Homo sapiens: one gene and its partners. The gene in region 4 interacts genetically with the main gene of each other region. Each region holds a gene or a part of one and is shown on either strand. Other genes may lie near its edges. The genes, in order: ATP2B2, MYLK2, TLR7, SPPL3, PRR16, STX4 and PLB1.

Region 1 (4,147 bases), on a different chromosome or scaffold from region 4:
TAAGTTCTTGAGCTATAGGTTCCCAAAATTTTGGTACCCCAATTTGAACTGGCCTCATGCCGAAGGGTCAAAGAGGGTAGTTGGGCACCTGGTGGCCTGCCTTCTACCTCCCCTCTGCCACATGCCAGCTGTGTGACCTTGGGTGACACAGCTTCACCTCTCTAGATACAGCGTCCTCATCTGGGACGTGGGGATAACAGGGCTATGGGCGTCCTCACTGAGATGATACGTGCAAAGCAGTTAGCTGGGTGAATGCTAGCTGGATTACTATTATTTACTTGGGTCCCCTGACCCATACCTGCGCCTGAGCTGGGGGAACGCAGAGGAGGGCAGCGGGACAGCACAGGAGGGTGCCAGCATTTCAGGCTCTGCATACAACGTAAGCCACAGCAGCTTCTCTGACCTTCAGTCTGGAGGGGACTTTGGAGTCTGCTGAAGGTGTTCCAGGCCCCAGCTCTCAGAGACCCCATAGCAGCGGGCTGGTTTCCTGATGCCAGGGAGAGGGCTGGTGGGGCCAGTCTGGGCTCCTGGCGGTCTGGGCCACGGGCAGCAGCTGCGTCCCTGGCCGCCTCTGTCTCCTTTCCAACTTTGGGCAGCCTTCTCTGAAGAACATCAATAACCCAAGATGGCCTTGCTGAGTCTAATCACAGCTCCCTGGGAATACGGGCTGGCCCTCCCCCAACGCCTGTGTGAGGCTGTGGCGGGCACTTAGGATCCAGTATCCCTCTGTCCTCATCGGAAGTCCCTTAAGGGGCAAGCTCTCCCTAGCACCCACAGAGCCACCTTGCCTCCTGGAAGCTGAGGGGGCGGGTGTGTGCACGCAGCATCCGCAGAGGTGCTGCATCTGTGTGCCTGTGGCCGTCTTCTTATGTGTGCAACTGACATTCACCTGTGGGCACATTCCAGCATGCCATGTGCCTGCCAATGCACGGGCAGGCACGCAGATGGCATTCAGAGCCCCACATGTGTGTGCCTGTTGTTTTCACACCTGAGCCAGCCCTCAGGTGGGTACACACATTTCTGGCTGTTGCAGGGCACTGTGTGCAGCCTACTGCTTTCCCGTGTTAGTGCTACATGCATGTGTGGGCAAGCTGCATGCACAGGTGTGTATGTGTGTACTGCATTCGTGTGTGTGCTGTGTTTTGCACGTGAGCATGTGGTGTTCAGGAACGTGGGTTGTATTTACAGGTGCTGGGGTGTGGGCATGGGCATTCCATATGTGTATATATGATTTGGACATATATGACGCACTACTTATGGGTACTATATTTGTATCTGTGCATATGTGTGAATTTGTGGGCATGCATATGCCCTGATGTGAATGGGACTAGGGTGTGAAGGTGGCTAAATAATGGTGGCCATCAGCATCTTTCCTGGACCCCCAACCCCCCACAGGACTCCCCAGAGCTGCAGCCCCTTCTTTGCCACTGCTCCTTCAACGAAGTTAACAGGCGGAGGCCCCCAAGGCCTGCGCTCCAAGCCCCCTCCTACTGCACACGTCAAAGGAGAATTTCTCCGGATGGCGCCCGCTGATCCTGGAAATACCCCAAACGTCAGCTCTGCCTCCTCCCAGCGATTCGGAGAGCAATGCAGGAGAGGAGGGAGCCCCTTCCACGCTGGGCTCAGGGCATGCAGCGTCGCACTAAGACCCTCTGCCGGCTGGTCGGGCTTGCCTGCTCACTTACCCTTCTGAAGGTCGAGCCAGGCTGGGCCTCTGCATGGAGGGCCCGAGACCCCCAGGGCCCTTGCCTGATTGGGGCAGGCCAGTCCAGAGCACCCCCCCAACCCCCAACCCCCAACCTGGGTGAGCAGAGGACAGCCGTGGTGTGGAATAGCTACTTGGCTAGAAAGGGGTTGCTGCTGTCCGCAACCCACCCTCAGGGAGTCCTGAGGCCCCCTGCTGCATTTTCCCATCCTGACCCTGCAGGGGGCAGGGAGGAGCCTCAGGTGCCCTATCCCTCAGCTGGAGACCACTGAGGCTGGCCTAGGAAGTGGGCTTCTGGGCAGAGGGTGCCGACTCCACCACCCAGCATGACTGCTGCAAAATGGCCTGGCCACCCGTTCCTGCCACCCTCCTGGCCATGGAGGGGACCCAGGAACACGTCCCTGCCACCACATGACCCGGCTGGCCTGACCCAATGAGTCCCAGCACACAGCTGCCCACCCCACCAAAGGGACGCTTCACAGGGGCCTCCTCCTGCCTCTTTCCTGGGACTCTGACCAGGGTGGGCAACGGGCACCCTCCAGTCCTCTTGGTCTCCCTGGGACCGGCTCAGAGAGAAGAGAACCTTGTCCCCTGCCACCAGCTTGCTGGCCCTTGCATAACATCCTTAGGGGGCATTTGCAGTCCAGAGGCTGCCGGAATCTACCTGAGACCCTGGGCATCCGCTTGTCCGAGGCCCCCCTGTCCTAGTCCCCAGCATCCAGCCGTCCCCCACAACACGCGGACCCTCACACTAGTGTCTCCCTCAGCGGCGGCTCCCAGTGCAGCCTCGGCTGCTGCCAGATAAACAAGCCCTGCTCCCACCCCCCCTCCACGCTGCCACCGCCACCACCATCAGCACTGAGAAAAATCAAATGAAATGAAACAAAATAAAATGGGTGAGGGAGGAAGGGGAGAGTGGAGTGGGGCGCTTTTTATTTTTTATTTTCTCATGCTGGGGGATGCCGGTACTTACTTGGCTATGAAAATCACCACCAATCCTGCACGGTTTCCCGGCGGGCAGCCCCGTAATCGCGGTGCGGCAGCTGGTGCCGCGGCTGAGCCCAGCCAGCGTGCCCGGGCCCCTCTGCAGACTGTACCATCCTGCCCGAGCGGGTGGGGGGCGGGGGGCGGAGGCGCCGGCGCCGGTTCTAGGAGAGCATCTCGCCGGCAAAATGCAATCTCGGGGGAGGCAGAGGCCGCCCCTGCCGCTGCCGGAGGCTGGGGGATGGGGGCGGGAGGAGGGAGGGAGGGAGGGACACAGGGAGGGCCGGTTCTGGAGGGGGCACGGGGGAGGAGAGTGGGGGGCGGGGGGGGTGTGTGGACCGAACCACCACGCTGTTGTTTGCGGTTTTAATTCCTCCCGTGGGATCATGAGGAACCGAAGCTGGCAGAGTCCCAGGAATATGCCCGCTCCCCAGAAGCAGGAGGGAATGTCAAGGGCACGGAGAGGGTAGGGCTGGGCTGTGCTGGAGGGAAGGGGGTCCTGAGAGTGGTGGTGGGGAGAACGGGAGCAGAGAGGGGAGGATTTTGCTCAAATGGCCCCAAGTCGTCCCTTGCTTTCTGGGGGACTTATTTGGTCAGGGGCTCTGGCCCCCCTCTTTGCAGTCAAGGCACCCCCAGACCTGGGGGGCAAAGGGGCAAAGGTCGCAAATGGGGAGAAGTCGACTCAACACATTTTAAACACATCTGTGTTTCCAGGGCCAGTGGAGCTGAGCCCGCAGCAGCTCTCTGCTGCCCTGAAGCGCTACCCCTGCGACCCGCCCTGCCTGTGTGCGACCCCACCTGCCCTCGGGGGGGTGTGGTGGTGGGGGCTGGCTTGGCAGAAGGGCCTGCCTCAAGAAGGTGCCCACCAGCAGGGGTGTCTGCATGTCTGTACACCCACCTAATCTTCAGGACATCTATGATGAGTTGCAGGCCGACTGTGGGCTGACTGACACTTCCACGGGAACCCAGGGACCCCGGGTGAGGAGTCGGTAGGGTTGGAAGCCCCTAGCCAGCTGCTCACCTCTTCCTGCCTAATCTCTGCCAGACTTGCTGCTCTTTCAACTCCAGATGGGTGGGAGGAGAGCCCTAAGAGCAAGGTTAGGAGGTCACCGGGGGCGAGGGGCTTCTCTAGAATTCTGAAGCCTTGGCCTCCACTGCCCTGCCCCCTCCAGGAGGGGTACCCTGCTTGGAGGGAGGGCACTGAAGGTGGAAGGACCTTCAGGACCAGTGTCTCAGGGCACCTGTCAGGGTGGAGGGGTGCATGGGGGACAGGGGCAGGGCTGGAGGCGGCCCCGGGAGGCAGTTCCAGGCAGAAGCTGCCTCTTTCCCCTGCCCCCACCTCCTGCCCACCTCTGAGCTGCCCGCCCGAGCGTCCCGAGCTGCCGCTCCATCCCTGGGCTGGCACAGAATACCAATTTGTCTCGTTAAGCTGAAAGTCTGCACTGCACCAAAATCAGA
Region 2 (2,915 bases), on a different chromosome or scaffold from region 4:
GACTTTTCTGTTTTTGCCCTGGGCTGGCTCCTGTCCTAGAGTGGAGACCTCTACCCGGCCTTCCACCCAGCCCCACCCATCTGGGGCTCTGGCTTCCCTCCTTCATTTTTCAAATATTTCTTGAGCATCTACTACTTCTAGGCATTGGGATATAGGAGTGGACAAAAGAGACAAAGATCTCAGTCTTTGTGGAGTTACTTTTGGTGAGAGATGGGGCATTTTCTATCTTTTTTTCTTTCTTTCAATACAGTCTTGCTCTGTCACCCAGGCTGGGGTACAATGGCGTGATCTCGGCCCACTGCAACCTCTGCCTCCCAGGTTCAAGCAATTCTCCTGCCTCAGCCTTCCAAGTAGCTGGGATTACAGGCACCCACCATCACACCTGGCTAATTTTTGTATTTTTAGTGGAGACGGGGTTTCACCATGTTGGCCAGGCTGGTCTTGAACTCCTGACCTCGTGATCCACCTGCCTCCGCCTCCCAAAGTGCTGGGATTACAGGCGTGAGCCACTGTGCCTGGCTGAGGTGGGGCATTTTCTAGAGCCCTGTGGAAATAGGCAGGGTTAAAGAAGACTTTAGAAAAAAAATAAGGGCCTTCTGCCGGGGAGAGGTTGCACTTTTATTTTTATTTTTTTTAGAGACAGGGTCTCACTCTGCCTCCCCAGCTGGAGTGCAGTGGCGCTATCATGGCTCACTGTAGTCTTGACCTTCTGGGCTCAAGTGATCCTCTCCTTTGGCCTCCTGAATAGCTGGGACCACAGACATATGCCACCACATCCAGTTAATATTTTAAAAATATTTTTGTGGAGATGAGGTCTCGCCATGTTGCTCAGGCAAGCAATCCTCCCGCCTTGGCCTCTCGAAGTGTTGGGATTACAGGTGTGAGCCACTGTGCCCAGCCTGCACTTCTAAATAGGGGGGGTCAGGAAGGGCTCACTGAGAAGCATGTGAACAAAGACCTGAAGGTGGGGAGGGGTGAGCCGTGCCAATACTGGGAGAAGAGTATTCCGGGCAGAGGGAGTAGCCAGTGCAAAGGCCCTGAGGCAGAGGTGTGGTTGGAGAGTTTGAGGAACAGGTAGGAGGCCAGTATGGATGGAGTGGAGTGAGCAAGGAGGTAAGGAATGAAGTTAGAGAGGAAGAGGGGGACAGGAGTTGGAGGGACTCATCGGCCATGGCAAGGGGTTTATCTTTTACTTGGAGCAAAACTGGAGCCATGGGAGTGTTTGGAGCAGAGCGGTCCTTGGTTCAGGTCTGGCTGACCTATCCGTTGAGTGAGGGGACTCCTGGACAATACAGTGTCATGGCGCCTCCCGTGGCCATTTTGGGCACTGCACCTTCTCTAGCCTGTGACCCTCCTGGACTGAAGGGGACTTACAGGCTGCTCAGACACCCTGCAGCTGCCCCCCTGCCCTGGTGTTGACTGGGACTCCCTCTCTTCTGCCCTCTAGAAAAACTTCATTGCTGTCAGCGCTGCCAACCGCTTCAAGAAGATCAGCAGCTCGGGGGCACTGATGGCTCTGGGGGTCTGAGCCCTGGGCGCAGCTGAAGCCTGGACGCAGCCACACAGTGGCCGGGGCTGAAGCCACACAGCCCAGAAGGCCAGAAAAGGCAGCCAGATCCCCAGGGCAGCCTCGTTAGGACAAGGCTGTGCCAGGCTGGGAGGCTCGGGGCTCCCCACGCCCCCATGCAGTGACCGCTTCCCCGATGTGAGCCGCCTCGGAGTGTGGCCTGGATCCATCCTGCTAGCACCTCCCCAGACAGGGCTCCAGCCTGTCGGCCACACCCCAGACTCCAGGCCCCCGTTGAAGCCGCTCCCGGTTCCCTCCCCAGCTCCTCGTCTTTGAACTGCCGCCGCCGTGGTGACCCCTGCTTTGCCCCACTGGGAGAGTCCTTAGCCTGGGCCTCCTCCTAGCTGGAGTGCCATGGCTGGGGGGTCTCAGCATGTAGGGCTTCTGTGGTTGTGGATGGGAGGCTCCTGGTGGGGCAGAAAGGCTGCAACGCTGATTCCTAAGGCCCAGCTGCCAGGGAAGACAGAGCAGGCTTTGTGAGAGAGGACCTCCATGCCCCCGCCACCTCCCCACTCCAGCAGATAAGGCCGAGCCCACACCATCTGGCCCAGGCTGGCCCCCACCCACCTTCCTTGCGACCACCAACACACAGGAACTCTGTGTGAGAGAGAGGGCGCCCAGCCCAGGCCTGGTGGAGGGGGAGGGGAGAAGCCAAGGGACACAGGAGACCACCCCCGAGCTTGCCTCAGGGCCAAGCCGGCCCAACCCAACCACTCGGGGCCCCCATCTTGGGGGTCACCCATGGCCTCAGATGATGGGGTCAGCAGGCCCAGGAGAATTAGGAAGGCCATGGGGCAGCCTCCAGTCTGCTCTCAGCTTGTGCCTTGTAAATAAATGTACAGGTTGGATGTGGCCTCCTTCCCTCTGTGTGTGCCTGCACTGGTGTGAGGTCGCTGATGACCACAGTTCACTGAGCACCTACTGTGTACCGGACACTTTAGCAATATCCGTCAGCTCACAGTTTGGTGGTTCATGCAGGCTCAGGTGCCAGTCTGCCCAGCACATGATGTGGGCAGGTGGCTTCTGCACGTTGTGCCTCAGTATCCTCACCTGTGAGAGGGAGGTCGCAGCAACAGCCTACACCGGGTGTGTGATTACTGCGTGCCCAGCTTTACTTAAAGCGCCTGTGCTGTGTTAACTCATTTACTCCTCACAGCAAAGTTACGAGGCAGGATTGATTGGTTGATTGATTGATTTATGATGGAGTCTCACTCTGTCGTCCAGGCTGGAGTACAGTGGTGTGATCTATGCTCACTGCACGCAACCTCCGCCTCCCGGCTTCAGGTGATTCTCATGAGGCAGGTATTATTATTCCTGTTTTACAGAGGGAGAAACTGAGCCAGAGAGA
Region 3 (3,500 bases), on a different chromosome or scaffold from region 4:
TAAAACTTTTAAAATCAAATTACAGAGGAAATAAGATCTCATCATAACAACGTAGAAGGAAATTGTGAAAAAGGAAAAATTCAACAAGTATTTATTGATGCCTGCAACATGCCAGGTACTTCTCTAGGTGTTTGGGACATCAGTGGACAAAATAGAAAAGATTTCCACTCAACTATAGCTTATGTTCTCTAAATAATCACAAAAATATATAACTGTCAGAAATGATATTGCATGTCAAGTGATAAGTGTTACTGAAAAAGAAAACAGGGCAGAGTGAAAAGGATCAGGAATGTGGGGTAGGATTGTGACGATAAATAGGGCAGCTTGGATAGGCATCATTAAGAAGTTGATATCTAAACAAAGACCTCAAGGAAAGGACAAAGTCATCCATAACAGACATCCAGGGGAAATGCATTCCAGACAGATGGATTAGCCTGGAGCAAAGGCCCCAAGGTGAAAACATGCTAGAATATTCACAAAAATGGCAACGGGGCCAATATTGCTGAAGCAGGGGGTGTAGGAGAACAATAGGAGATGAAGTCAGAGAGGGAGTGTCCCTGAGCATGTTGGGCTTTCTCTACCATTCCATGGATGGCGGTCTCTGCTCTGGGTGGAATGCAGATGCATTGCAAATTTTTGAGCTGACAATCAGTTGGTCTGACTTACATTTGAGAAGGATGCTGCTGGCTGCTGTGTTGAGAATAGACAGTGAGGGGCAAGGGTGAAAGCAGGGAGACTAGTTGAGAGGCTATTACAGTCATTCAAGCAGAAGTCCCAGGTAGCAGTGCTGGAGGGCGTAAGAACTGGCCGAACACCAGATATGTTTTGAAGGAGTAGCTACATAAAATATGACTTCAAAGTTCTTGGAAGAACGTAAGGAGAGGGATTTGGAGACAGCAAACATTTCTAGGAGGTTTCCTGTCAAGAGGACGAAAGACATGGTGGGTAGTTCACAGGCAATACAGCTTTCACCTCGCGCGTACTGGCACACACACACTTTCTCTCTCTCTCTCCCTGTTTCTCCCTCTCTCCCTTTCTCTCACCCACTTGCTTTGGAGTCCTGAGTCATCACCCTTGTAAGAAGCCTGGCTATACGACAACCACCATATTAGAGAGACCACATGGAGACAGAGACACTTGAGGAGCTGCAGCTGCTTCGGCACCTAGCTGTTGAGTCTCCTAGCCCAGGCATCAGACCTGGAGAGTGAGTCTTCAGGTGATTCCAGTCGCAGTCACCGCCTGACTGCCACCCCAAGAGAGACCCTGTGGGAGAGCTGCCTAATGAGTCCAGTCAACTCCTGGACCCATGATAGAAAGCAGTATATGATTGTTGTTGTTTGAAGCCATTGCATTTTGAGGTGATCTCTTACGCAGTGATAGGTAACTGGAACAGGAAGTCAGACAGGACATATGGGAGCAGATGGTCTAGGTAGGTACACAAGGAGGAGAAAGAGGAGAAAATGGAGAGTCCTCCAGGAGGGTTGGAGAGTTTTCTGGATGGAGAAGTAGAGTGTGATTGCAATAAGGAATTCTCCCACCCACTACACCCCAGCAAATGAAACCCTCACCTTTCTGTATTGAATCGGTAGGCATGCCCCTGCCAGTCTATTATATATTCTTTGCATAGCTATTATCTGGCTACAATGGATTATTTTCAGCAGCAATCTTGGCAAAAGGAAATTTATCTTGAGATGAGACTATTTGAGGCCTGGGGAACGCTTTTATTTTTATAGTGAGTTAAGAAAGGATTTCCTGCTCTCCTGACTCTACTCTTTTACCCAACTAACCAACCAGTCAGAAAGGCCCCTGGGCACCCCCTGGGCTACAACATGTTAGCCCTGAGAGGACAACAGCCCCATGCACTCAGCTGTTCCTCCAAGCGACTTTCAAGATCACAGAGCAGAAAAAAGCCAAGTTGCCTGAGTTTAAAAGGAAATGTTGGGATCTGCATTTCTAAGACAAAGAGTTGCTTGAGCCAAGACGTGTGAGCGAGGGGCTTTCTGTGATGGCGGGGAGCCTGCAGCGGGGGTCTGGGAGAAACCAGAGGGGATGGCTGCCTGGCTGAAGAAAACTTAGAAAGGGCATGGAAGAAGTAAGCAATGGCCGGGGCGATTGCTGGAAACCTTGCCCTCAAATTCATTGACTTTTTGCCATGTTTATATCACACTGAATTGTTTGGTAACTAGAGATGTGTTGTGTATGTCTCCCTAGAGAATAACCAAGCACTGTGAATAAGGGAAGTTGCTGAAATGCTATTCATTTTATAGACTGAGCCTCTGCTAGGAATTTCCCAAATAGATTTATTAACAAATATCCCCTATTTGTGAATTTTGAAATATTTTTAATTTTAGTTTAATCTCTGTAAAGTACAAATACCATGAATATCAGTTTCATTATGTCACCAAAACGTTTAAGTACAAGGTTGTAAACCACTTGCTTTTTTTTAAAAAAAGGAGAGAGTTATCATTTACTTCCTATCATTTTAGCCCAACAGACTTAGTTTTCAAACTAAAAGAATAAAAGGATATAAAGTTGTCTTACATAAATTAGGAACTCAACAGCTATTATGCATCACAACAGTCACCAAAGACCATAGGGCTCTCAAACCTATTTGACCTTATACCTTATCCCTTTGTTTTCTATAAGCCCCGGCCTGACGTACTTTTTCTGTAAAGGGCCAGTTAGTAAATGGTTTAATCTTTGCAGGCCATCAGGTTCTCTGTCACACTACCCAACTCCTTGAATAGTTTGCCATCGTAGTGCAAAAGCACTTATCAACAATAAGTAAACAAATACTCAAACAATAAAACCATTTGTAAACACTGAAACTTGAATGTAACTTTTATATGTCACAAAATAGTAATTTTGCTCTGATATTTTTCAGTCTTTTAAAAACAACAATTAAAAAAAAACCCCTTAGCTCATGAGCTGTACAGCAGGTGGGATATAGCCCATGGGCCATAGTTTGCCAACCCCAGCCCTAAACTTCGGTGAGTTTCGGGGATATACATTATTTATTCTTGGGGTGCAGAGGTACTGGCTGGTTAATCTGTAATGATGATTTTTAATTTTAGTACAGCGTTCCAAATTTTTAAATAATCAGATTGTATTAATTTAATAAATTGATTACTTAATAACCTTTTTTTAGCCATAAAGAAATTTCCTATAGGTTAAGAGCAGAATAATATTTTTACTTTTAAATTTGCTGAACCACTATTGACATTTTGGGAGATGGTCCCTTCTAATAGTAATTTCCCATCCCTGCATCTATTTCACATGGTGAGAAGCATTCTAGTAACAGCCAAGGCTTTGTCAGTACAAAAATTTGGTTTTAAGTCCTTGTTCTGTCATGTAAGAGCTCTCTGACTTTCATAAATCACTTGACCTCATGAGCCTCTGATTTGCCAACTGTAAAATGGTTATAAAGTAGGGATGTTGAATGAAATTAGAATATGCAACACATGTGTTTATGTAAACCATCATCACAGATTATCCAACAT
Region 4 (3,500 bases):
AACACAATTTCCCGCTCTCCACACATACTGTGTTCTTTTCACGCTCTACCCAGAAGGTCCTGCCCCCGGCTCCTTCATATGGAAAATCCATCCTCATTCTGGAAGAGCCAGGTCAGGAGTCCTTTCTCAGAGTCTTTCCTGATCCAACCAGTCAGTTGCTGCTGCTCTTTTTTTGTTTTTTTGAGACAGAGTTTTGCTCGTTGCCCAGGCTGCAGTACAATGGTGCAATCTCAGCTTACTGCAGCTTCCACCTCCTGGGTTCAAGTGATTCTCCTGTCTCAGCCTCCCGAGTAGCCGGGATTACAGGCATCCATCACCACACCCAGCTAATTTTTGCATTTTTAGTAGAGACAGGGTTTCACCATGTTGGTCAGGCTGGTCTCAAACTCCTGACCTCAGGTGATCCACCCACCCCGGCCTCCCAAAGTGCTGGGATTACAGGCATGAGCCACCGCGCCCGGCCCAGTTGCTTCTTCTATGTGATGTGCCATAGAACGTTGAATGTCTCTCAACTCACTCATCCATTCTATGACCTTGTGAATATTTACATACTGGTAAGTTTATTCCCTGTGCTAGCTGACCACGTGCTCCTGGGAAACAGAAACCATGTCTGATTCTTTCTGTGGATCCCTAGCACTTGACAGAGTAGACATTCAATAAATACTTGCTGAATGAATGCAAAACTGTGTTCTATTAACTTCAAATTTCAAATTATTCTAAGGAAAGTAAAAAGCCATATGAACAGATATATTTCATTTTCATAGAACTGGTGGTAAATTGTCAATATATGTAATAAAGTGGATAAATACAGCAGCTTGGCAGACCCTGGACACATCAACTAAATTACTGTTTCATGGGTTCCTACTGTGTGCACGGTGCTAATATAAACACAGAGGAGAAAAAGCTGCCTCATCCCTACAACTCAGAGGAGTTGGAAAGACAGTATTCAACCTAGGAAGAGCAAAATATATATCTTCATCTCCACTATCATCACTGTTATCAAGCGCTCACTGAGTTACAGGGTGAGCTGCAGTGTGAGTTCTGGAGAGATGTGGTCAAGATCTAATTCCTGACTTTATAATCATATAGAATGTTTATTATACTAAGGTCTCCTTTAATTTTTAAATAAATTCATACAACCAACCTGGTAAAATGTATACAAATGCATGTCATTTGAAATGAACCTAATGAAATGTATTAGTCAGTGAGGCTTGACAAAGCTCAGAGCATTCAGAGCTGCAAAGGGATGACTGAAACATGATGTTTAGGACACTGAGAGATGTACCCAGAGCCCCTGCTCTGATCAACTCACACGCATATTTGAAAGGACAGGACCTCCCATGATCATCATCTTTAGGAAACAAAGATTTGGTTGTGTCATGAGTCAATAACCAGGACATTACCAGGGAGCAGCTCATCTGGCTGGAGGAACAACAGTGGTCAGCAGCAGGTGGGAAGCCCATCGGGCCAGAGCACAGGTGAGACACAGGTTTGTGTATAGATACTGGCTAGGGTGATCTGTTCATGGACTTACAGGTGAATACATGGAATGCAAGGCATCAAGGGCACGAAGAAAGTAACAGAAGGCCTAGGATGGACAGACGGGAGACAGGAGTCTGCGGGGAGTGAGGGTCAGAGGACTGAATGATGCAGCTCACCAGTAACCAAAAGCGGGGCAGGGAAACAGACTGAACAGAGAAGCAAGAGGCCAGGCTCCTCGGGGTAAGTTTATTCGCCTCTGTGACACATGTAGACGACCTGTCCCTTCCTGACCTTTTCTTTTTGGAGATGGAGTCTTGCTCTGTCGCCCACGCTGAGTGCAGTGGCACAAGCTTGGCTCACGGCAACCTGTGCCTCCCAGGTTCAAGTGACTCTCAAGTGACTACCAGCGCCCGCCACCATGCCCAACTAATTTTTGCATTTTTAATAGAGATGGGGTTTCACCATATTGGTCAGGCTGGTCTTGAACTACTAACTTCAGGTGATCCACCTGCCTCAGCCTCCCGAAGTGCTGGGATTACAGGCATGGGCCGCCGCGTCTGGCCCTTCCTGAACTTTTGTACTCAATTTGCCATAGAATCACTTCATCCTAACTGCGCAGGAGCCTTGAAAGGTCACAAGGTCTGAGCATCCACCTGCTGCTTTGTCATTCATCTCATGCTAATCCTCCTCCACCTGCGTCTAAACTAAACATGGAACAGACTGCTCAGTGACTGGGTTTTCCATGACTCCAGACAGTGTCATTCTATCCTAACCTTCCAAATAAGAAAGTCTGGGTTCATCTTCAACACATCACAGCCTCTCATCATACACATGAAATCTGCAGCCATTCTGAGGTGTTATCCTTTACTGTTACTGCAGACCTTGCTCACACCTCCACCCACTTCCTACTTTGCTGTGTCTCCTTTCCCTCCCTCCCTCTTACTCTTTCCCATGTACTGTTCACTGCCACTGTCAAACATCTGTTCACATAATTTCCTGCCTGAAGGTCACCAGGTTCCCTTCTCTATGACGAATCAAGTCTAATTATAAAGTTGCATAAACTCAGGAGGCACAACCTCCACAGAGTGGAGCTGAGCACCATGCTGGCTCTGCCTTGGCATCTGTCTGAACGGGTTCCTATTCCTCAGCCTATCCCTTCTCTCCATCTGCGTTAAGCTGAACACCCTCTTTCCAATTAGACCATCTAGGTCCTCCCCACTCTAGTCTAAGTTCCGTGTATGAAGAGGCAGAAGGCATCCTTTTGACTGTCTCAGAGAAGGCTCTTAGAGGCATGTGGAATAAATACCACTCTGACCCAGCGAACACTGCCACAAGCAATGTCGTATTCCCAGAACATGCTCTCAATCTAGTTTGCCTGCCTTTCATTCTGTCATTCAAGTAACCCTTAAAAAATCTTACCTCCTCCTCAGGGCTTTTCAAGGCTAAAGTGAAGGGAGGTGCTCTCTTTCCCTTGCGGCTTTAGACACTCCTGAGACTCTCTCTTATAGGTTTACCAACACACTTAACTTTTGGTTAAATGTACATTAACCAAAAGTGTTGGGGGAAGTAAATGATTAATCTTAGCCATTTAGCTAGAGTTATTTTCAATTTATCACTGATATCTCTGTATTACATTGTCTTCTACAACCAGTGAGTCAGGGACAAAGACAGTGACACCAAACCGAGCTCAAATGTTCTCTACGAGGATGACATAACCTGTAAGGTTTCTAAGCAGTGCTCACATTCGCGATACAGGCTCTCTAGATATCTATGCCCTATGTGGAGTCAGCGCACCAAGAGTGTAGCATTTTATTTATTTATTTATTTAGAGGCAGAGTCTCACTCTGTTGCCCAGGTTGGAGTGCAGTGGTGCAATCTCAGCTCACTGCAACCCCTGCCTTCCAGGTTCAAGTGATTCTCCTGCCTCAGCCTCCCAAGTAGCTGGGACTACAGGTGCATGCCAGCACACCTTGGTTAATTTTTTTATTTTTAGTAGAGATGGGGTTTCACCATGTTGG
Region 5 (3,500 bases), on a different chromosome or scaffold from region 4:
TACTATCTCGGACCTCAGATTTCTTATGTGTAAAATGGGCAATATCAGTAACTTCCTCATCTACCTGTTTTGAGAATTAGATAATTTAATATAAATAAATGCGCTGAGAAGAGTACCTGGCAGAGAGTAAGACCTCTGTTAGATATTCATATTGCCAAAACTGCTCTTTCTAGTGACGTTTAATAACCATGAAAAGCTGGAAATAAATAGAATACCCAATATTAAGGGAAGTATGAAGTAACTTATAGCAAATCTGTGTAATAGTTACGATCTATATCATTCAAGAAAGTAGAAAATGTCATTGCTTATAATTTATAACTTTGTATAACTTCATCTATGTTAAAATATGCATACAAAAAGACTAAAAGAAAATATGACAAAATGTTTAGTATACTTATTTTTATGTGGTACTAAAGATAATTTTTGTTTTCTCCTTTATATTTCTTTAGATTTTTGCAAACTTTCTATAATATTCATGTGCTGCTCCTAACATCAGAAAAAATAAATTTGATTTTTTTAATAGTGCCCTTTGTTGTTTGTTAACTTTGTATTTGCAGCTTGATGTCAGTCATGTATATTTCAATCAGAGTTGAATCAGCGACCTACTGGAATTTTATTACTCTAAATCTCTAAAATTGCCCCTGAAATTTTTCAAGAACTATCTCTACAGAAGAAAAGTTCTATAGTTTGGGAAAATATGTTTTGCTCAAACTTGCATTTCTATCTTTTTTCCTACATTTAGATTTAAGTACCTGAGATCCTCAGAGAAGCAAGGATGAAAATAACATAATCCAGGTAATAATGAAACCTATTACACTGGCTTTATTATCTATTACTTCACTGTTGCCTGAAACACACTATCTATTACTTTAAGGCTGCTTGAATTTCTTATCAGCTAATTCTCTAAGTGTTGAATGTTTTAATTCATTGGAAATAGACAGTGATGGATGATTATTGGCTACCTCTATGTTCTCAAAATTATTTTTGGTAACTGCTAGGCCATCATGCCTAAGTAAAGAAAAATTTCAGAGCATTTTAGCATTTGGTAAATATACCACAGTTTGGGGAGGTAGACTGTGGTATAAAGTAGTAAAAGTATGACTATTGCTACAATTAAAAGAACTACTAAATTCTATTTATACACAACTTTAGAACTTGGAAAATACTTCAAGCCAGACATGGTGGCTCATACCTATAATTCTACCACTTTGGGAGGCCTAAGCAGGAGGATGACTTGAAGACAGGTGTTCAAGATCAGCCTGGGGAATATGGCAAGACACCATCTCTATCAAAAAAAAAAAAATTAAAAATTAGCCAGGCATGGCGGCGCATGCCTCTAGTCCCAGCTACTCAGAAGGCTGAGGTGGTAAGACTCCTTCAACCTAAGAGATGGAGGCTGCAGTGAGCCAAGATCTCTAACACTGCCCTACAACCTAAGTGACAGGGCAAGATACTGTCTCAAACAAAAAGAAAATAGTTCCGAGATTATTCTCTATAATTTTTTCTTGTAACGAATTTTTTATGCATGGGCTCATTAACCAAAAAATACTCGGTAGGAATTTCCAGACAATAAACTATAGAACATCAAGTGGTTAAGACATTAAAAGAGGGAACATTTAGAAGTGAAAATATTTTTCAGATAATTGTTAATTCTGTTTTCATCAGTTCAAATCAGACTGTTTCCTATGGGGTTCAAATTGTTCAAAATTCAACTTAAATTTATTTCAGTTTATGCCATTGTAAGACAAATTATGGGTGCTTTCCAGTCCATGGCAACAATGCTGACATACTTCTCACCAATGGAGATCCAGTCACTGAGTGATTCTAAGGCAACAACAAAACAACTTTATTTTAGTTTCTCTGTTAGAGTCATGTCTATTCAGAAAGCCTCTCAAGAAATTATTTACATATGTTTTTCAACTCATATAGTAGCCTTGTTACTTGAAATCATAAAAATAAACACTACAAGAAAAGCTCAAGGTTATAACAAGTCTAAACTAAAAGAGAATCCAGCTAAAGCTGCAATTAGTTTTGTTTCCAGATAAAAGGCTGATTATTACAGATTCCAGTGTCACTCTGACCAATAAGATATGTGATCCCATATTAATACCAGCATTTAATGCAAAATAGTTTACCAGTGAGATCTTCATAAAAGAACAGGCATATTGCTACTCAAAGGCATTAGATTATTTGAGAACTATTTTAAAAAGCAATTGCTTTGTTTCTACATTTCTTAGTGAAAAAGTATCACTCACACCTACTCTACCAGTTATGGTTAATTTTATCACTAAAACTCTAGAGTTTCACCACTATTTTCTTCTTTTTTTTCAATGTGTAGAAAAATGCAACATGGATTACTCTTGTAGTCCAAACCTATTTCCTTTTACCTGTGACTACCTCTTAAAACCCTATTTACATTAAGAAAAAGAAGAATTCAAAATCTTCCTTTTTAACTCTCCATTTCTCCAAAAGACTTAGCTTTCATGGAAATCTTCAGTATTTAGTTACAACATTTGAATATGTAATCTCCTGTATATGGTATTGATCCATTTATGTTAACCATGACAATCTAAGTCAACTGTAAATTTCTTAAAATTCATATATTTTCATCTTTTTAAGCTTATTTCTTCATCAAAGACTTGCCATACTACTAAGTATGCAGCACACATCATTTTATAAATCAACATATACTCACTCTCATTCTCAATTCTCGATTTCCCCAAGCCTGCAGTGAGAGTGGCCACTAAAGGCCACAATGTCTTTTTATACTGCTGATGTTGGAAGACAGGATAAATATATCCCTAACTAACCTTTGGAGCTCACTGAGACCAGAAACTATGCCTTATTCATCTTGGTAGCAATTTAAAAGGTGTTATAGTACTTGGAACATGGTAGGTGCTCAATAAGTATACTGAATTATATTTAAGGCTTTTCCAATATATTAATAGCATAGAAAACAAAAGGACCCATATTATTTCTGAAAAGTCAAATTATTTGAGATTTTACTAAATTCTGAGAGTAGAATAAGGCTGCTCTTTGACTTTCTAGAAAGCCTGTTCCTCTGCTTCTAATATATAATCCAATTATAACTGATTAAGTAATTATAACTAAATAATCATAAAACAGATACCCAAAATAACAACTCTTCTTGCTGAGCAGACTAGAGTTTTGTCACTACTTATTAAAGTGTTTCAAGCAATTACTATTATGTTTGATTCTATCCTACTACCTGAGTTTTCAGATGACTTAAGCCCAGAAAACTTCTATGAAGAAAAGCAATTTCAGAGTAACCTCAAACCAAAGTTTAATATTGTTGGTGCAGAAATTACACAAAAACAAAGAACAGAATTAAAGAAGATTGCATTTTAACTAGATATTTTTTAAAAGCAGAAAGAAAAAATAAATACTATATGATGACTGCCATAGTGATATAGTCATAACTACTTTTTTATTTTTAATTTCTGTTGCAAGTTAAGAAGAGCTCGCCGATAATTTATATT
Region 6 (4,107 bases), on a different chromosome or scaffold from region 4:
TCACAGGGCCCGGCCTCCTGTGCTTTCTGACTGGCAACCTCTTCCCCAGCTTAACATCCCACTCCAATGTCATCCCTGCTGAAACCAGACCATCCCTATCCACTGCATCCAAAGTGACAGCCTCAATTAGGCATTTTTTCATGGTGCCTCTTCCTCTGGGCCACAAGAAGGCCCACTGATGCCACCCAAACCCCCATCTCACCTGCGTCCCAGCCTGGCCTGGTCAGCCTCATCATTTCCAAGACAGATACTCACAGTGGTCCTTTCCCGGGGACAGTACTGAGCCAGGAGCTAGATGCCGGTGTTACCCCTCCCTGCCCACCCATTCCTATGGGGGTGCAGAAAGGCAGAACCAGCCTGCTGTGGGCACAGCACCCCTGGCAGTTTGACCTGAGCAGCCAGGGCCAGACCTGGCCCTGGGGACGTCCAGGAGGTAAGGAGGTTGGATGCCCGGAAGCCTTGGGCCAGCCCTTCCAGGAACACACGTGCACAGGGCTTTCTATGCTCTTTTTTTGTTTTTTAATTTTTTACAAAACCGTGTGTCCCGGCCAATCAGGACAGTGCAGGCCTCCCCCAGGCATTGAGGCCTGAAGGAGGAGGCCATCATGAATGAGCAGCTGCCAACCCCAGAAGAACTGTCTGCCCTTCTGCATAGGGGCCAGTGTGAGGAAGGGGTCCGACTGGAGGCTCTGCCCTGCCCCCCAGGCTGCTGGGAGAGAAGGCCAGGCCCTGGGTTCCTGGTGCTCCTAGTGCCTGTAAGGAAAGGAGGGAGAACAGGGTCTGAGGGAGGAGGGAGGGCTGGGGCCAGGGCTGGGGCAGGCCAGGGGGCAGCCCACAACATCTCACCAACAATGTGCGACATTATCCAACCACTGTGACGCCAATGATGACTGCTAGGAGGACGACGGTGATGGACACACAGATGGCAATCAAGACTTTCTTCTGTGGGAGAGGAGGGGGTCAGGGAAGTCACACAGGGTGCCTGGGGCAGTGGCCGGGCCTGGGAGGCTCACCTTCCTCGCCTTCTTCTGGTTCTCCAGGGCCGTCTTGACGTGCTCCTGCCCACGTTCCACGTAGTCCGCTGAGCTCAGGATGTTCTTCTCAATCCGATTGATCATCTCCCCCTGCTCAGAGGATGGGGTGGTTCAGGGAGGTAAGGATGCCTTTGCCCACCCCACCCCAGATGACTGAAGAACATTCCTGGCAGGAAAAAAAAATTGCACTAACAAAGACAAGGGCAAGACTTGATCTGACAAAAGTTCAGACTCCTTGGGGATGGCTTCCAGGCCCCTTCTATCATGTAGTCCCTTGTCCCCTGCTCACTTATCCCATACAACCTCTATCTGCAGTGGTAGCTTGGAGCTAAGGGCCTCAAATGGCTCATACCTTTCACAGATGGTGAACTGTGCCTTCACAAATCTGTCTGAATTTACCCATTCTTCCAGGCCTATCTACAGCTGCTGCAAAGCCCTCCCTATCCCTGCCTCCTCCTGGCACCACCAGCCTCAGGTCTCAGTACTCCTACTGAATGAGATCTCTTTCCTGTAAGTCTCAGCTGCAAAAGGGCATTGGCTGTAGCATGACTGAGGCCAGCTCCTCCAGGACAGGGCTGGAAGCTCAACTCAACTCACAACCAGGGCCAGGGGAACGCCGCCCCCACCCCAGCCTTGTACAGATGTTAGGAGGCAGCCCCTCTAGGGCAACTCTGACTGGACCTCTGAGAGGTATAAGGGTGGATGCTGTTAGTGGAGGGGGAGTGAGGGCTGGGGCCAGACCTGGGCAGGCTCAAGTTTTGGAGAGGGGGCAGGGTGCTATGCAGAAGGGAGTGGGCATCTGTGTAGCAGCAGAGGCAGGTGCCATTCTCGGGGTACAGCTAAGGATAGGAATAAGCACCAATCTGGGGGCATGGCCAAACCTGGAAGACACAAAAGCCTCAGGGAGAGAATCTAAGGGTGGCGGGAGGCTGGCAGTTTGGACTGAGCCTGGTCTCACGTCTGGGGCTGCGCGGGGCACCCACCTGCATCTCCACTTCGGTAGCCAGAAAAGTGAATATGTCGTGCAGCTCACGAATACTGCGTTCAAGCTGCTGGATCTCACTGTGCCGGGCCGAGATCTCATTTAAGGCCTGTCGAGTCACCTGCGTGTCCTTCAGGATCTGGGGGGTGGACAGGAGTGGGGCAACTGTTCACAGGGAGACCGACAGCAGGTCAGAAACTCCTGTTGAGCTTCTGGGGAGCCCTCAGCCTGGAATCTGATGGGTGACTCCAGGCAGGCTAATTAATTCCCTTAGAGGCCTCAGGGTGCCCTTAATCAGAAAGGGCCACAGCAAGCGGGGTGCAGTGGCTTGCACCTATAGTCCCAGCTACTCGGGAGGCTGAGGCAGGAGGATCACCTGAGCCCAGGAGGTCGAGAAACGGACAGGACTCAGAGGGGATGGGAGGCACAGCAGAGAGGGGCTGGCTGTGGCCACTCACATTGGACACAAACACCTCGCTTTGCCCACTGTCCAGCATCTGCTCCAACTCCTCATCAGACACCATCCCAGCATTGGCTGTGAAGGAAAAGGCCAGGCTCAGGGTTGGGTTGGGATTACCTGCCCCTGCGGGCCAGGCTGGGCATGCACAACTCACTGATCTTCAGCTGCCTCCGAATCCGCTCCACGTTCTTCTCCCGGTATTCGGACTGCATTGAATTGCACTTGTTGATGAGCTCCACGAATTGCTGGGACAGGACCCCATGCTAAAGATGAAGAATATAGGCTGAGTGCCCCTGGGAGGATCCCTGCCCGGTCGGTGCCTCGGCAACCCCATAGTACAGTGAGCAAATAGCATGAGCTCTTATGCGGGATCTGCCACCTTAACCACCTTGTGATGACCTTGACAGGCTCCCCCATTTCTCTTAGACTAAAAGCCAAAGCCCTTATCAGGCCTATGTGGTCCTCCATGATCTTTTTTATTTATTTATTTATTTATTTATTTATTTATTTATTTATTATTTGTTTTTTGAGACAGAGTTTCACTCTTGTTGCCCAGGCTGGAGTGCAGTGGCACAATCTCGGCTCACTGCAACCTTGGCCTCCCGGGTTCAAGCAATTCTCTTGCCTCAGCCTCCCGAGTAGCTGGGACTACAGGCACGCGCCACCACGCACGGCTAATTTTTGTATTTTTAGTAGAGATGGGGTTTCACCATGTTGGCCAGGATGGTCTTGATCTCTTGACCTTGTGATCCACCTGCCTCGGCCTCCATTACAGGCGTGAGCCACTGCACCTGGCCTATTTTTATTTTTAATAGAGACAGGGTTGGCCGGGCACGGTGGCTCATGCCTGTGATCCCAGCACTTTGGGAGGCTGAGGCAGGTGGATCACCTGAGGTCAGGAGGTCAAGACCAGCCTGGCCAACGTGGTGAAACCCCATCTCTACTAAAAGTACAGAAATTAGCTTGGTGCAGTGGTGGGCGCCTGTAGTCCCAGCTACTTGGGAGGCTGAAGCAAGAGAATGGCTTGAACCCAGGAGGCGGAGGTTGCAGTGAGCAGAGATGGCACCACTGTACTCCAGCCTGGGCAACAGAGTGAGACCCTGTCTCAAAGGAAAAAAAAAAAAGGGGGGGGGGTCTCACTATATTGCCCAGGCTGGTCTCAAACTCCTGGGCTCAACCAATCCTCCCACCTCAGCCTCCAAAGTGCTGGGATTACAGGCGTGAGCCACGGTGCCTGGCTAGCCCTCTATGATCTCTCCTTCTCCCATGACCTCTCTGATCTTACTTCCTCTTACTGTTCCCTTCCTCTGCCCATCCACACTGGTCTCCTTACCCCTCCCTAGACAAAGCACACTCTCAGCTTAAGCCTTTGCATTCACTTTTCCTTCTACCTAGAATGCTCATTCCCAGCAAACACCTTTAAGTCTCTTGTTCAGATGTTACCTTCTGAATGAAGCTTCCTCCACCTGCTTTCAACTGCAACTCTACCTCCTCCAGCATGCTTAGTCCCTCTTCCCCTGCTCTTTTTTCCTTAATGCTTATTATGTTCTAAATAATTCACTTATTTATTATGGTGATTGTCTACACCAGAAGGGAAGTTCCATGAGGACAGGGATCACTGGTTCACTGCT
Region 7 (3,500 bases), on a different chromosome or scaffold from region 4:
TCTTGGTCTTACCCGGTAGGCTCGGCTGAAGGCCTCCAGCCTGGCTAGCTCTTGGGAGTTCTCCCGCAGGGTCAGAACGCAGTTACACAAAACGCTGCACAAAGAGGGGGAGGCAGGAGGCCCCAGAGCTCAGGCTTCCATCAGGGGCTGGTTCTGATTGCCCAGGTTCAGGGGAGGGGTGGAGAGGCTCCCTCCCGCCCTGGTTTAGGAGCACTCAAGCCTTGAGGCTCTGGCGCACATGCTCAGGGGCAGGCTTCAGGCCTGGCAGGGGCACTGGAGATGGCCCGAGGGAGGGAGCCAGTGTGGGAATGAGCACCCTCTCATACCAACAGAGCACAAGTGTTGGACTGCAGGTGCTGGGCCTGCAACCGATTATTCAGCTGAGCAAATGAATTTGGGCAGTGAAAATTTAGTGTTTAATTAAAAAGAAAATGCATCCTCTGGTGTTGGAGCTGATATTTTGGGGCCTCTGATGCTATGCCTTAGACCTCTCCTTCTTTCACATGAGTGCCCTACTGTGTCCCCTTTGGTTTCATCATGAATTATTTCACACCCATCACATCTACTTAAGAGAGAGATTTCTAAAGCACTTGAAACAATGCCTGGTACACAGGAAGTTCTGTAAGATTTGCTGAGTAAATAGATGTGTAAGATATAAAGAATAATAAAACACACATCCATGTACTTATGGCCCAGTTTAAGAAACAAAACACTCCCAGTTTGAAGCTCCCTGTGTCCCTCCTAATTCTCTTCTTCCCCTAAAGGTAACTGAGTTGCTTGTACCTTTTCCTTGCTTTCTGTTACAGTTTGACCACATATGTCTACTTCCCTAACCACTGCCCATGTTCACAGTCTAGGCTATCCTGTCTCTCAAACACCAGCCTCTGTCCCAACTTTGATCCCTCCCCTCTGTGGCTGCCTGGTATCATAGAAGTTCCTGCCAGGCACCTTGAAGTTGGGTAACAGGGGAGTCATGGCTCCAGCCTCTGGAAGGGGACGTTCTGGCAGAAGTCCTCCTTTACAGACTTGGACACATGGATAGACCAAGTCACAAAGACCCTGAGGCATCACCACTGCATGTGGGCCAGACCAGGAGGTGAGGGCATCTCCAGTGTGGGGACAGCCAGGACCTGCCTACCTGGCCTGCTGCACTGGGCACTTGTCTGGGTTTCCCAGGAACACCTGCCGCATGATAGTGGGGTTCAGGAAGTCCACGAGGTTGACCAGGACTCTGGGCACCTAAGGGAAAAGCTGCAGATGAGAGGGGGGCTCCAGGCACTTCTTCCTGGGGCTGTCTCAGGGCCCCTAGGAATGGGTTCCTTTAGCAATCCAGCTTGGTCTTTCTGGAGTTGAGTTCTGGGGAGGAGTCTATACAGGGCTACCTCGTAGGGCCTTACAGGCCGTACATCACACAACTCCATGGGTGCCACCCAAAGGGGCTGCAGCGGCAATGGCACCTCCTGGAGTGGGACAATAAAGACTAAGAGATCATCTCTGTTTAGCCATCATGTAGCAAGCCCAGATACATTAGAATTACCTTCGGTGAGATAGGCAACCTCTTCCCTCCAGCCCAAACTGGCCTAACTCTGCTGAGTAGGCACGCAGACTCAACCCCCACAGGGGAGCATCTGGTGGTCAGAGTGCCCTGTCTCACGCAGCCAGGGCAGCTTGTCCTTGCCAGAAGATGGTGGTGGTGGAGGGGGAATGTGCTGCTGGGTGCAGGACCAGACAGGGGCTTGCTCTAGACACACCCTGTGGCTCAGAAGGCAGTGCCCAGCCTGGGGGCCACCTGGCTGCCACCACCAGAAAATGTCCCGGATAGTAGTGGGGAGACATTAGACAATTCCACCAAGGAGTGTCCCATGTAGTGGTGAGGGAACAGCCTTCCCTCCTTCAGACCTGAGGCCCTTCTGGGCTGATTCCATATAAAATAAGGTTTCCTTGGGGTTAGACCCCAACCTCTGAAAAGGGAAGGAGTCCATGCCCCTGGCTGTCTCCTTGAGAGAAAGGGGTTCTTCTCTCATTCTTTCCCCCCATCCACCTTCACCCTCACCATGCTTGAGCTGTTACCAGCTTGTGGAAGCCCCCCACCCACCTCTCTATGCAGGACGTCCAAGGCATTGCGGAGATGGTGAACAAAGTTGGCTGCAGAATACAGATTCTAGAAAGAGACAGGAAGGAGGAAAAGGAGGAACTGGTTAGGGTGGGAGGGCAGTGGGGCAGTTCTCAACTTCCCTTCTGGCTCCAGCCCTGAGGACTTGTTCCCCCTCTAGCCTCCAGCTGTGGCCAGCTCACCATGTCAAAATCTGAGATGAACAGTTGACTACTTGCTGTTGTCAAAGATGGGCCAGTGGGAAGACTGGAACCTTCAGCCAGAGCTTTGGTTCAGGAGCAGAAAGTGGAGACTCCTCCTTCCAATTGCTTGCTACAGTTTCCTCTTTCTGAATTCTCAGGAGTTATAAGAGAGAGGAGTAGAAATACCATATATCTGCCACCTGCTACCTCACCACCTAGGACATGGAGATGGTGCCAAGGACCTGGAGGGTGGTGGGGTAAGAAGTGTGTGTGTGTGTGTGTGTGTGTGTGTGTGGTATGTGTATATGTGCAGACATAGGTGTAGGTGGATAATCCTAGGATTGGTTTTAGGAACTGTTCTCAGGGAAGATCTCCAACGCCTACTGGGCAAAGTTAGGAACAACAAGTAGGCCTGGACCTGGCCCCAATTACCGAATCTGTGCAGTAGTCACATAAATCGCTGCCTCCGATCAGCACTGTGATGACCTTCCAGTCTTCATGGAAATTTACTCTCTATATGGAGGGAGGAAAATGCTTGATAATTTCCAACAAGGAAATGAAAATATCCCTGCCCTAGGAAATCCATTCAACCCTCTATAACATCCTTGCCCACTTGAAATAATGGAATCAGCATCTCTGAACTGAAGGAATTTTAGAGGTTTATTTATAGACCACAGACTCTTAGCATCAGGAGGGATTTTCAGTGTCGCTGTACCCAGCAACAAAGCTCTCTCCATTGACATACCCTCCTCCACAGGACCTCTGTCAGGGGGCTGTCCGACCACTGCTTGAATGCCTCTAATAACATGGGGCTCACTGCTTTTCAGAGCAGGCCACTCCGTTTGGAGACAACTTTAGTGGGTTAGAAAATTAATGTTTAGAAATAACAGTAAATCTGACTCACATGATCATCTTTCATCTTCTGCATCAGAGTTTGGACTTGGCTCATAAGATCCCTGAGAAAGAGAGAAAACCCATCCTTCTGTTGAGGAACAGTGCCCATAGTTTTCCTCCTAGAGGGCCTGAACCAGAGGCTTCTACAGTATCATCCCCACTGCATGAGCTGGCAGAGATCCCGAGGCTCAGAAACCAGGAGTGACTTGCCTCTTCTGGAAAGTTATTACAACAGATAATCATTTGAAAAGCCAATGATGTGTTTGTCCTACAGCTGTAGTCAAAGTACTGCCAATTATATTTGTTGCTCA

The links.
Region 1: changes in SPPL3 (region 4) and ATP2B2 together harm fitness less than expected from each alone (positive genetic interaction), as found in Homo sapiens cells (one large-scale study listed by BioGRID).
Region 2: changes in SPPL3 (region 4) and MYLK2 together harm fitness less than expected from each alone (positive genetic interaction), as found in Homo sapiens cells (one large-scale study listed by BioGRID).
Region 3: changes in SPPL3 (region 4) and TLR7 together harm fitness less than expected from each alone (positive genetic interaction), as found in Homo sapiens cells (one large-scale study listed by BioGRID).
Region 5: changes in SPPL3 (region 4) and PRR16 together harm fitness less than expected from each alone (positive genetic interaction), as found in Homo sapiens cells (one large-scale study listed by BioGRID).
Region 6: changes in SPPL3 (region 4) and STX4 together harm fitness less than expected from each alone (positive genetic interaction), as found in Homo sapiens cells (one large-scale study listed by BioGRID).
Region 7: changes in SPPL3 (region 4) and PLB1 together harm fitness less than expected from each alone (positive genetic interaction), as found in Homo sapiens cells (one large-scale study listed by BioGRID).

What each region holds. Positions count from the first base shown.
Region 1 is NC_000003.12:10,502,787-10,506,933, forward strand, and holds the start of ATP2B2 (plasma membrane calcium-transporting ATPase 2), read right to left. Parts: upstream 2,801-4,147; 5' UTR 2,679-2,800; intron 1-2,678. UniProt on the Homo sapiens protein: ATP-driven Ca(2+) ion pump involved in the maintenance of basal intracellular Ca(2+) levels in specialized cells of cerebellar circuit and vestibular and cochlear systems.
Region 2 is NC_000020.11:31,832,270-31,835,184, forward strand, and holds the end of MYLK2 (myosin light chain kinase 2, skeletal/cardiac muscle), read left to right. Parts: intron 1-1,447; coding exon 1,448-1,528; 3' UTR 1,529-2,415; downstream 2,416-2,915. UniProt on the Homo sapiens protein: Implicated in the level of global muscle contraction and cardiac function. Phosphorylates a specific serine in the N-terminus of a myosin light chain.
Region 3 is NC_000023.11:12,870,072-12,873,571, reverse strand, and holds part of TLR7 (toll-like receptor 7 precursor), read right to left. Parts: intron 1-3,500.
Region 4 is NC_000012.12:120,771,859-120,775,358, forward strand, and holds part of SPPL3 (signal peptide peptidase-like 3), read right to left. Parts: intron 1-3,500.
Region 5 is NC_000005.10:120,467,300-120,470,799, reverse strand, and holds part of PRR16 (protein Largen), read right to left. Parts: intron 1-3,500. UniProt on the Homo sapiens protein: Regulator of cell size that promotes cell size increase independently of mTOR and Hippo signaling pathways. Acts by stimulating the translation of specific mRNAs, including those encoding proteins affecting mitochondrial functions.
Region 6 is NC_000016.10:31,036,558-31,040,664, reverse strand, and holds the end of STX4 (syntaxin-4), read right to left. Parts: intron 2,740-4,107; coding exon 2,631-2,739; intron 2,552-2,630; coding exon 2,475-2,551; exon of another isoform or gene 2,472-2,474; intron 2,156-2,471; coding exon 2,018-2,155; intron 1,125-2,017; coding exon 1,014-1,124; intron 943-1,013; coding exon 862-942; 3' UTR 847-861; intron 754-846; 3' UTR 501-753; downstream 1-500. UniProt on the Homo sapiens protein: Plasma membrane t-SNARE that mediates docking of transport vesicles. Necessary for the translocation of SLC2A4 from intracellular vesicles to the plasma membrane.
Region 7 is NC_000002.12:28,600,560-28,604,059, reverse strand, and holds part of PLB1 (phospholipase B1, membrane-associated isoform 1 precursor), read right to left. Parts: intron 3,252-3,500; coding exon 3,200-3,251; intron 2,809-3,199; coding exon 2,728-2,808; intron 2,162-2,727; coding exon 2,096-2,161; intron 1,240-2,095; coding exon 1,139-1,239; intron 95-1,138; coding exon 13-94; intron 1-12. UniProt on the Homo sapiens protein: Calcium-independent membrane-associated phospholipase that catalyzes complete diacylation of phospholipids by hydrolyzing both sn-1 and sn-2 fatty acyl chains attached to the glycerol backbone (phospholipase B activity).